Homo sapiens: one gene and its partner. The protein of the gene in region 1 purifies or fractionates together with the protein of each later gene. This does not show direct contact. Each region holds a gene or a part of one and is shown in the gene's direction. Other genes may lie near its edges.

Region 1 (4,464 bases):
AGATTTATTTAAAGTGCTCTTAATATCTTAGTATGAAAATTTTGTCAGATTAGCCTCTTGTTTATTTACACAACATTTTAAAATAATTTGAATATATTTTAATTAAGATCATTGAAACAAAAACAAGACATCGAAAATTTATTTGTTCCAAACTGGATTAGAAGTCTACTTACCTAAAAGAGAAATGAATTTGAAATATTAGGAGGGAGAGGAAGGTGATGTATACCATCCCTTCTAGTACTGGCAGAAATAGATAAGCTTTTCCTCCCCCCCCATTAGTTAATGTAATGGATATGAAATGTACCTTTGCTAAAACGTGTTATGCATGTCTCTTGAAGTGAATTTAGTTTATGTGCTTTTTTTTTTTAACTTGTGTTTAGTTTGTTTAGTGTTCACAAAACTTTATGCTATAAGCTACTTAAAGAACTAGCATATGTTAGGAATACAGTTATATCTATTATCTAGACAGTAGCTTTTAAAAAGTAGGAGGTGGGCCAAGCATGGTCGCCCACACCTGGAATGCCAGCATTTTGGGTAGCCGAAGCAGGTGGGTCACTTGAGGTCAGGAGTTCGAGATCAGAACTCAATCTAGCCAACATGGTGAAACCTCATCTCTGCTAAAAATACAAAAATTAGCTGGGCATGGTGGCGTGCCTGTAGTCGCAGCTACTCGGGAGGCTGAGGCAGGAGAATCGCTTGAACCTGGGAGGTGGAGGTTGCAGTGAGCTGAGATCACACCATGGCACTCCATCCTGGGCTACAGAGCAAGACTCAAAAAACAAACAAACAAAAAACACAAAAAAAGTAGTAGGAGTTGGGTGGTAAGAAATCTGTTAAGAATCAGTTTTGTTACGTATTTTTGTTGAAATTTTACCCTCTTAACTATCACTCCAAGACTTAAGTTTGACACAGAAAGCTTTTGTTGAAATTTTACCCTCTTAACTATCACTCCAAGACTTAGGTTTGACACAGAAAGCTAGACCTTAATGTACAACAGTTTCTATTTATAAAAGTAATCAAATGAACAATAATAAACAGTGATAAGCATAAACTAATAAAAGTTATATGAATGTAGTTCCTCACTCAAAATATCTTAATATTTTCAGATGTCAGTTGACCTTGGATAACTGAAGCCACAGAAAATGAACTCTTGGATAAGGGAGAGCTACTGTATTTCTTTTTTTTTTTTTGAGATGGAGTCTTGCTCTGCTGCCCAGGCTGGAGTGTAGTGGTGCCATCGTGGCTCACTGCAACCTCCACCTCCCTCCCTCAGGCTCAAGCGATTGTTCTGTCTCACCCTCACCCTCCCGAGTAGCTGGGATTACAGGTGCACGCCACCATGCCCGTCCAATTTTTTGTATTTTAGTAGAGATGGGGTTTCACTGTGTTGCCCAGGCTGGTCTTGAACTCCTGAGCTCAGGTAATCCACCTGCCTCAGCCTCCCAAAGTGCTGGGATTACAGATGTGAGCCACCGTGCCTGGCAGGAATTACTGTAGTTACCTTTTGTGTAGTTGCTGAAATTTATTATGGAACCCAAACAAAAATAATCATGAGATTAAATTTTTATGTTAGCTGTTTGGTGCATTTAATTTTTTTTTTCTTGTTTTAAATAAAGGTGGACCCCCAAAAGTACAAGGGCATATTTAACGGATTCTCAGTTACACTTAAAGAGGATGGTGTTCGTGGTTTGGCTAAAGGATGGGCTCCGACTTTCCTTGGCTACTCCATGCAGGGACTCTGCAAGTTTGGCTTTTATGAAGTCTTTAAAGTCTTGTATAGCAATATGCTTGGAGAGGTATGTAATTAACTTTAAAATTGAATGTTCCGAGTGTTTAAGACTTTCCGAGTGTTCTTAGATTTTTGTCTGTCTTGCCTTATTTTAGCACTGAAGAAAATGGTCCTACAAAGTGAGCAACTTGTTTTAAATCGTATGCCTGTGTCAGCAGAGACAGGTTGATAAATGTATTTCATTAAATTACAATTCTCCTTTTAATATACTATCTTGTTTTCTAAGTAAGTTGGATTTTGAGTTTTTTAGAGAAGGGCTCTGGGACTCCTTTGCGTAGTTCCGGGGCATGGCATCTAGATATTTTTTGAATATTCATGTTGTTCACATAGTTACGTGTTTTGTTAATGAGGTTATGAGACCACATATATATTCCATATCATCGTGTGTTACTTTATAAAATGTCTGAAGCTTAGTTGTTTTCTAGAACTGTCACTTCAATTGAAAACCAACACAACAGCAATTCACATCCCTTCCTTGTGTTTTGGATTTTAGGAGAATACTTATCTCTGGCGCACATCACTATATTTGGCTGCCTCTGCCAGTGCTGAATTCTTTGCTGACATTGCCCTGGCTCCTATGGAAGCTGCTAAGGTTCGAATTCAAACCCAGCCAGGTTATGCCAACACTTTGAGGGATGCAGCTCCCAAAATGTATAAGGAAGAAGGCCTAAAAGCGTAAGTAAACACTTAAAAATTTATACTATGAAAGTACTTATTTTAAGTGAACTTCATTTTTTTTTGTTTTTTTTTTTGTTTTGTTTTTTTGAGACAAAGTCTCGCTCTGTCACCCAGGCTGGAGTGCAGTGGCGTGATCTCGGCTCACTGCAAGCTCCGCCTCCCGGGTTCACGCCATTCTCCTGCCTCAGCCTCCCAAGTAGCTGGGACTACAGGCGCCTGCCACTGCGCCCAGCTAATTTTTTGTATTTTTCAGTATAGACGGAGTTTCACCGTCTCCATCTCCTGACCTCATGATCCGCCCACCTTGGCCTCCCAAAATGCTGGGATTACAGGTGTGAGCCACCGCACCCGGCTTCTTTTTTTTTTTTCTTTGAGACGGAGTTTTGCTCTTGTTGTCCAGGCTGGAGTGCAATGGCACTATCTCAGCTCACTGCAACCTCCGCCTCCCAGGTTCAAGTGATTGTCCTGCCTCAGCCTGCTGAATAGCTGGGATTACAGGCATGCACCACCACGCCTGGCTAATTTTGTATTTTTAGTAGAGACTCCATGTTGGTCAGGCTGGTCTCGAACTCCTGACCTCAGGTGATCCACCCGCCTCGGCCTCCCAAAGTGCTGGGATTACAGGCGTGAGACACCGCGTCTGGCTGTGAACTTCATTTTTTAGTATTAAGCCTACCAGACTTTTTAAAAAGACTATTATAACATTTAATGTCTATTTACCTGTATGTAGAACATAAACTTGAGAGGTAAAGATAAGTTAATACATGGTTTGAGCCCTGGACTGAGTTTTTTTTTTTTCCCTAGAGTAAGGACCATTTGTCGGTCTACAAATGACTTGATGTTTGGCCTAAACATTTACTATTAACTTTTAGGGAGGGCTTGTTAGTATCCTTGTGATCTATTCACAGTTAAGAATTTCCATGACCACAACATGCTTCCTTAGATCCACCTTTGTGGATGAATCTTGAACTGAGTTCCACTTGTAAACTTCTTGTTTCTTGTGGTTCCAGTAGTCAAAGAAACATCCAGCAACTTTTTTGGTTGTATAGTCAAAGGTGCTTGAGTCATTGGCATGTAAGAGAAATATACCTGCATGTTAGTCTAACGTTCTGATAGAAATGACATGCATTTATGCTGCCATTTGTTACTATCAGGACTCGACTCGTGTGCGGACATTTCTGTTAATAATGACAGTCTCTGATAGATGAGTGTATGCAACTGTGTAAAACAAGTCTCTTGATTTCCTAGATTCTACAAGGGGGTTGCTCCTCTCTGGATGAGACAGATACCATACACCATGATGAAGTTCGCCTGCTTTGAACGTACTGTTGAAGCACTGTACAAGTTTGTGGTTCCTAAGCCCCGCAGTGAATGTTCAAAGCCAGAGCAGCTGGTTGTAACATTTGTAGCAGGTTACATAGGTACGAATTACTTAGAACACACTTGTCTGAAATTATGAACAAATAATCATTTCCATTATTGGCGTTTTTTGAGAGGGAAAAATACTCCAAAGGTTATAAAGCAGTGTTTTTGTTTTTTTGGTTTCCCTGAGGCATAGTCTCGCTCTGTTGCCCAGGCTGGAGTGCAGTGGCATGATAATAGCTCACTGCAACCTCCTCCTCCTGGGTTCAAGTGATTCTTCTGCCGCAGCCTCCCAAGTAGCTGGGACGGGCATGCACCGCCATGCCCGGCTGATTTTTGTTTTTGTTTTTTGTTTTTTTTTGAGATGGAGTTTTACCCTTGTTGCCCAGGCTGGAGTGCAGTGGTGCAATCTTGGCTCACTGCAGCCTCCGCCTCCTGGGTTCAAGCGATTCTCCTGTCTCAGCCTCCTGAGTAGCTGGGATTGCAGGCGTCTGCCACTACGCCCGGCTAATTTTTAGTATTTTTAGTAGAGACGGTTTCACTATGTTGGCCAGGCTGGTCTCAAACTCCTGGCCCCAGGTGATCTGCCTGCCTTGGCCTCCCAAAGTGCTGGGATTACAGGCGTGAGCCACCGC
Region 2 (4,293 bases), on another chromosome or scaffold:
TTACAGGCGTAAGCCACCGCGCCCAGCCCAAGGTGTCTTTTTTACAGTTAGTTTATTTGGTTCAGGATCCCAATAAAAGTCACATATTGCATTTAACTGCAATGACTCTCAAGTCTCTTTTCTTTTGAGTCCCCCTCCTTCCCTGTTTATGCCATTGATTTGTTGGATAAACCACGTCATTTGCCCTGTAGAATGTCCCACATTCTGGCTTTGGCTGAGGTCACATTGCACTATTTACATACAAACAACTGAGCAGCCAAAATTGGGGGGGGGGGCTCAGAAACAGAACAGACTTTAATAATAATAGCTAATGGCTAGGCGGCACAAACCGTGAGGCACAGGTTACATATACACCAACTCATTTTATCACACAGCTAGTAAGGGGTGGAGCCCGGCTTTAACCCTAGGCAGTCTGTTTTCACCCTCTGTAAAGGATTGGGCATGGCTGTGTTCCAAGAAAACTTTATTTACAAAAGCAGGTGGAGAGCTGGATTTGGTGCACAGATTAGATGATCCCTCATCTACCTCACAGAGCAGCTGGAAAGGAGAAATGACAGATGGCACGCTGCTCTGTGGACTGTACAGTGTGAAGCACCTGGGAGGAGCTTGGGGGGCAGCGAACATGGTAATAAACATAAAGCTCAGAGCTCCCCGCCAAGGGTGAGCGCTTCCAGACGGAGAAGTACACGGGCCGGCCAGTCAGATGGGCATGGGTTCTGATGGGGGCCCTGCCATAGGCCGCCTGGTGACCCACGCGGGGCTGCCGTTCCTTCGGGGGTTCAACGGCATGATCAAAGACACCGGGATGTGTGTGTGTGTGTGTGTGTGTGTGTGTGATGATCAAAGACACCGGGGTGGGTGTGTGTGTGTGTGTGTGTCATGATCAAAGACACCAGGGTATGTGTGTGTGTGTGTGTGTGTGTGGCATGATCAAAGACACCGGGGTGTGTGTGTGTGTGTGTGTGGCATGATCAAAGACACCGGGGTGTGTGTGTGTGTGTGTGTGTGTGACGGAGTCTCGCTCTGTCGCCCAGGTTGGAGTGCAGTGGCGTATTCTCGGCTCACTGCAACCTCTGCCTCCCAGGTTCAAGCGATTCTCCTGCCTCAGCCTCCCCAGCAGCTGGGGACTACAGGCGTGCGCCACCACGCCCAGCTAATTTTTGTATTAATCAAAGACGCATTTCAACGCAGAGGAGGAAGTGCTAGCGGACCCACCCCAAGGTGCACAGTTAGAGAAGGAGCCTCTGCGGCGGCCGGAGCCCCCCACGGACATCCCCTTGAGGCCCCCCCAGCCACACCCCCAAGAGTCCCGCCCCCAGACCCGTCGAGCGAGCTCCCCTCCCTGAAATCCTCGCCCCGAGATCTCCGGCCGGCGAGCTCCGCCCCCTGAAGTCCCCATCCCAAGATCCGGGGCCGGCGAGCTCCGCCTCCCGAAGTCCCCGCCCCCAGATCCCCGGCCGGCGTGCTTTGCGGCCGCCCTGCCGCGCGCACATGTAGGCGTTCCGAGCGGCGGCGGAGGTGAGCGCACGGACGAGCGGGAGGGACCCTTCTCCGGCCTGATGCGACCCGGTAACGCGTTCAGACTGCGGAGTAGCCTAGGGGCCCAGAGTGGAAGCGTAGCGAGGACCCCTCTGCGGGGCTCCTGCAGCCCCTCCTCCCCCAGCCACCGGCGGGCTGCATGGTACTGTGTTCTAGGCCCACCCCGCAGCGCGATGGCCCTAGGGACGTTGGACTTTGGTCCAGACCTTTCCTTTCTTAGCCTCACTTTCCGCATTGGGAAAAAAAAAAAGCCCGAATGATAATGATTCTTATAGGAGTTCTTGATTAAGATAGGCCAAGCGGTACCCTGCGTTTTTGTTTGCGGCAACTCATTCGTTGCTCATTAAGCACTTTTCACGGACAGGAATACAGTAAGTTTCAATCAAAGTGAAATAATTGTGAATTTTTACTGACGTATTCACGGATGAAGTGATAGGATGCCCGGGGATGTTTCAAAATAAACCAGTTGGACGGAAGTGTGGTGGAAAGAGAAATCAAACAAGATTGGCCATGAGTTGATGGGATTGAAGTTGATGGATGTACTATTTTGTCTACTTTGGTATATGCTTGTAATTTGGCATAACAAGTTTTCTAAAACAAAAAGTTTGCTGTGGACACCTGACTATGCCTGTGTTAGCTTGCTAGAGCTGCCATGCCGAAGTACCGGAGACTGGGTGGCCCAACCAGCAGAAATTTGTCCTCTGGGAGTTATGGAGGCTGGAAGTTCAAGACCAGGGTGTTAACAGGGTTGGTGTCTTCTGAGACCTCCCTTCTTGGCTTGTAGGTGGTAGCCTTTTCCCTGGATCCTCACATGATCTTCCTGCTGTGCCTGTTTGCATCCTAATCTCTTCTTATAAGTACACCAGTCAAATTGGATTAGGATCCATACTGATGGCCTCATTTTATCTTAATTATCTCCTTAAAGACCCTGTCTCCAAATACAGCCACAGTCTGAGGTACTGGGGGTTAGGACTTAAATATATGAACTGGGGAGGAGGAGGAGACACAGTGCAGCCCATAACACTGTCACTTCACTAGCTTAGGATTTTGGCCATTTAAGTTTTCACAGCTTTGAAATAGGGTTAGCTGTAGTAATTAGGTCATGGGGTTGTGAGGGTTCAATCGGTAAGAGTGCTCAGAACTGAGTCTAGCATATAGTAAGCACTCAATAAATTGAACACGTTTTTCCTTATAAATTAGTAATCATAGGGCTTTACCATGGGATGAGTGGAATGAGGCAGTTGGAGTGCCGTGCCCAGCGATGGGAATAAAAGTCATTACAGCCATTATTATAAGGAATATCTGCTGCTGTGCCAGACACTAAATGTTTTATGTATGTTTATTCATGTGCTCATCACCGCCACCCTAGAGGTGGGCCATTACGACACACCTGTTTGGCACATGGGGAAATTGACGCACAGAGACGGAGCTGGGATTTGAACACAGGCACTCTGGCTCTAGAGCCCACACTCTTCACCACTATGCTGTGTTACTTTGGTTTAAAAAGGTGGTGTGGACCCTGGAGGATGTTCAGTCTGCAGGCTGACCCAGGGAAACTGGCTGACTTCTCTTTTTCTTGGCCCAGATTGTCCGCAGTGACTACACTCATGGCAGGTCCCCTGTGGCGGACCGCAGCATTTGTGCAGAGACACAGGACAGGCCTCTTGGTGGGTTCCTGTGCAGGCCTGTTTGGAGTTCCAATCTCGTACCACCTCTTCCCGGATCCCGTGGTCCAATGGCTCTACCAGTACTGGCCTCAGGGCCAGCCAGCTCCGCTCCCTCCACAGCTGCAGAGCCTCTTCCAAGAGGTGCTACAGGACATAGGTGTTCCTTCAGGCCATTGCTACAAGCCCTTCACCACCTTCACCTTCCAACCTGTGAGTGCAGGCTTCCCAAGACTCCCTGCTGGGGCTGTGGTGGGCATCCCTGCCAGTTTCTTGGGAGACCTAGTGATCAACACTAACCATCCCGTGGTCATACATGGGCATACAGTGGACTGGCGGAGCCCAGCAGGCGCCCGGCTGAGAGCTTCCCTGACCTTGTCCCGTGAAGCCCAGAAGTTCGCCTTGGCCAGGGAAGTGGTGTACCTGGAAAGCAGTACCACTGCCGTGCACGCCCTGCTGGCCCCAGCTTGCCTGGCAGGGACCTGGGCACTGGGCGTGGGTGCCAAGTACACCCTGGGGCTCCATGCAGGCCCCATGAATTTACGGGCTGCCTTCAGCTTGGTGGCAGCAGTGGCAGGCTTTGTGGCCTACGCCTTCTCCCAGGATTCTCTCACTCATGCCGTGGAGTCCTGGCTGGACCGCCGCACGGCCTCCCTCTCTGCAGCCTATGCCTGTGGTGGAGTGGAGTTCTATGAGAAGCTTCTGTCGGGCAACCTGGCCCTGCGCAGTCTCTTGGGCAAAGACGGGGAGAAGCTGTATACACCCAGCGGGAACATCGTCCCCAGACACTTGTTCCGAATCAAACATTTACCCTACACCACCCGCCGGGACTCTGTGCTGCAGATGTGGAGGGGGATGCTCAATCCGGGCCGCTCCTGATGGGCTCATCACAAGGACACTTCCAGCTTGTGCAGACACCACCCTGCCATTGAGTCTGGAGGGCCCTGTTGGAGCCTTTGGACCTATAGCTCACGGCCAGAAAAATCACTGGCTTTGGAATTAAATAGCTTAGATTGTACTATAACCACTACTTATGAACTCAGGGACTATGAGGGACTATTCAGGGGCTATGAATCTGAGCCTTTGTTTC

The links. The genes of interacting proteins can lie anywhere in the genome.
Region 2: the proteins of SLC25A3 (region 1) and TMEM177 fractionate together in Homo sapiens (co-fractionation; one large-scale study listed by BioGRID). This does not show direct contact.

Annotation. Positions count from the first base shown.
Region 1 is NC_000012.12:98,596,240-98,600,703, forward strand, and holds part of SLC25A3 (solute carrier family 25 member 3 isoform b precursor), read left to right. Parts: intron 1-1,616; coding exon 1,617-1,796; intron 1,797-2,282; coding exon 2,283-2,464; intron 2,465-3,395; exon of another isoform or gene 3,396-3,645; intron 3,646-3,715; coding exon 3,716-3,888; intron 3,889-4,464. UniProt on the Homo sapiens protein: Inorganic ion transporter that transports phosphate or copper ions across the mitochondrial inner membrane into the matrix compartment. Mediates proton-coupled symport of phosphate ions necessary for mitochondrial oxidative phosphorylation of ADP to ATP.
Region 2 is NC_000002.12:119,677,708-119,682,000, forward strand, and holds the start of TMEM177 (transmembrane protein 177), read left to right. Parts: upstream 1-1,493; 5' UTR 1,494-1,569; exon of another isoform or gene 1,570-1,910; intron 1,911-3,124; 5' UTR 3,125-3,146; coding exon 3,147-4,082; 3' UTR 4,083-4,293. UniProt on the Homo sapiens protein: Plays a role in the early steps of cytochrome c oxidase subunit II (MT-CO2/COX2) maturation and is required for the stabilization of COX20 and the newly synthesized MT-CO2/COX2 protein.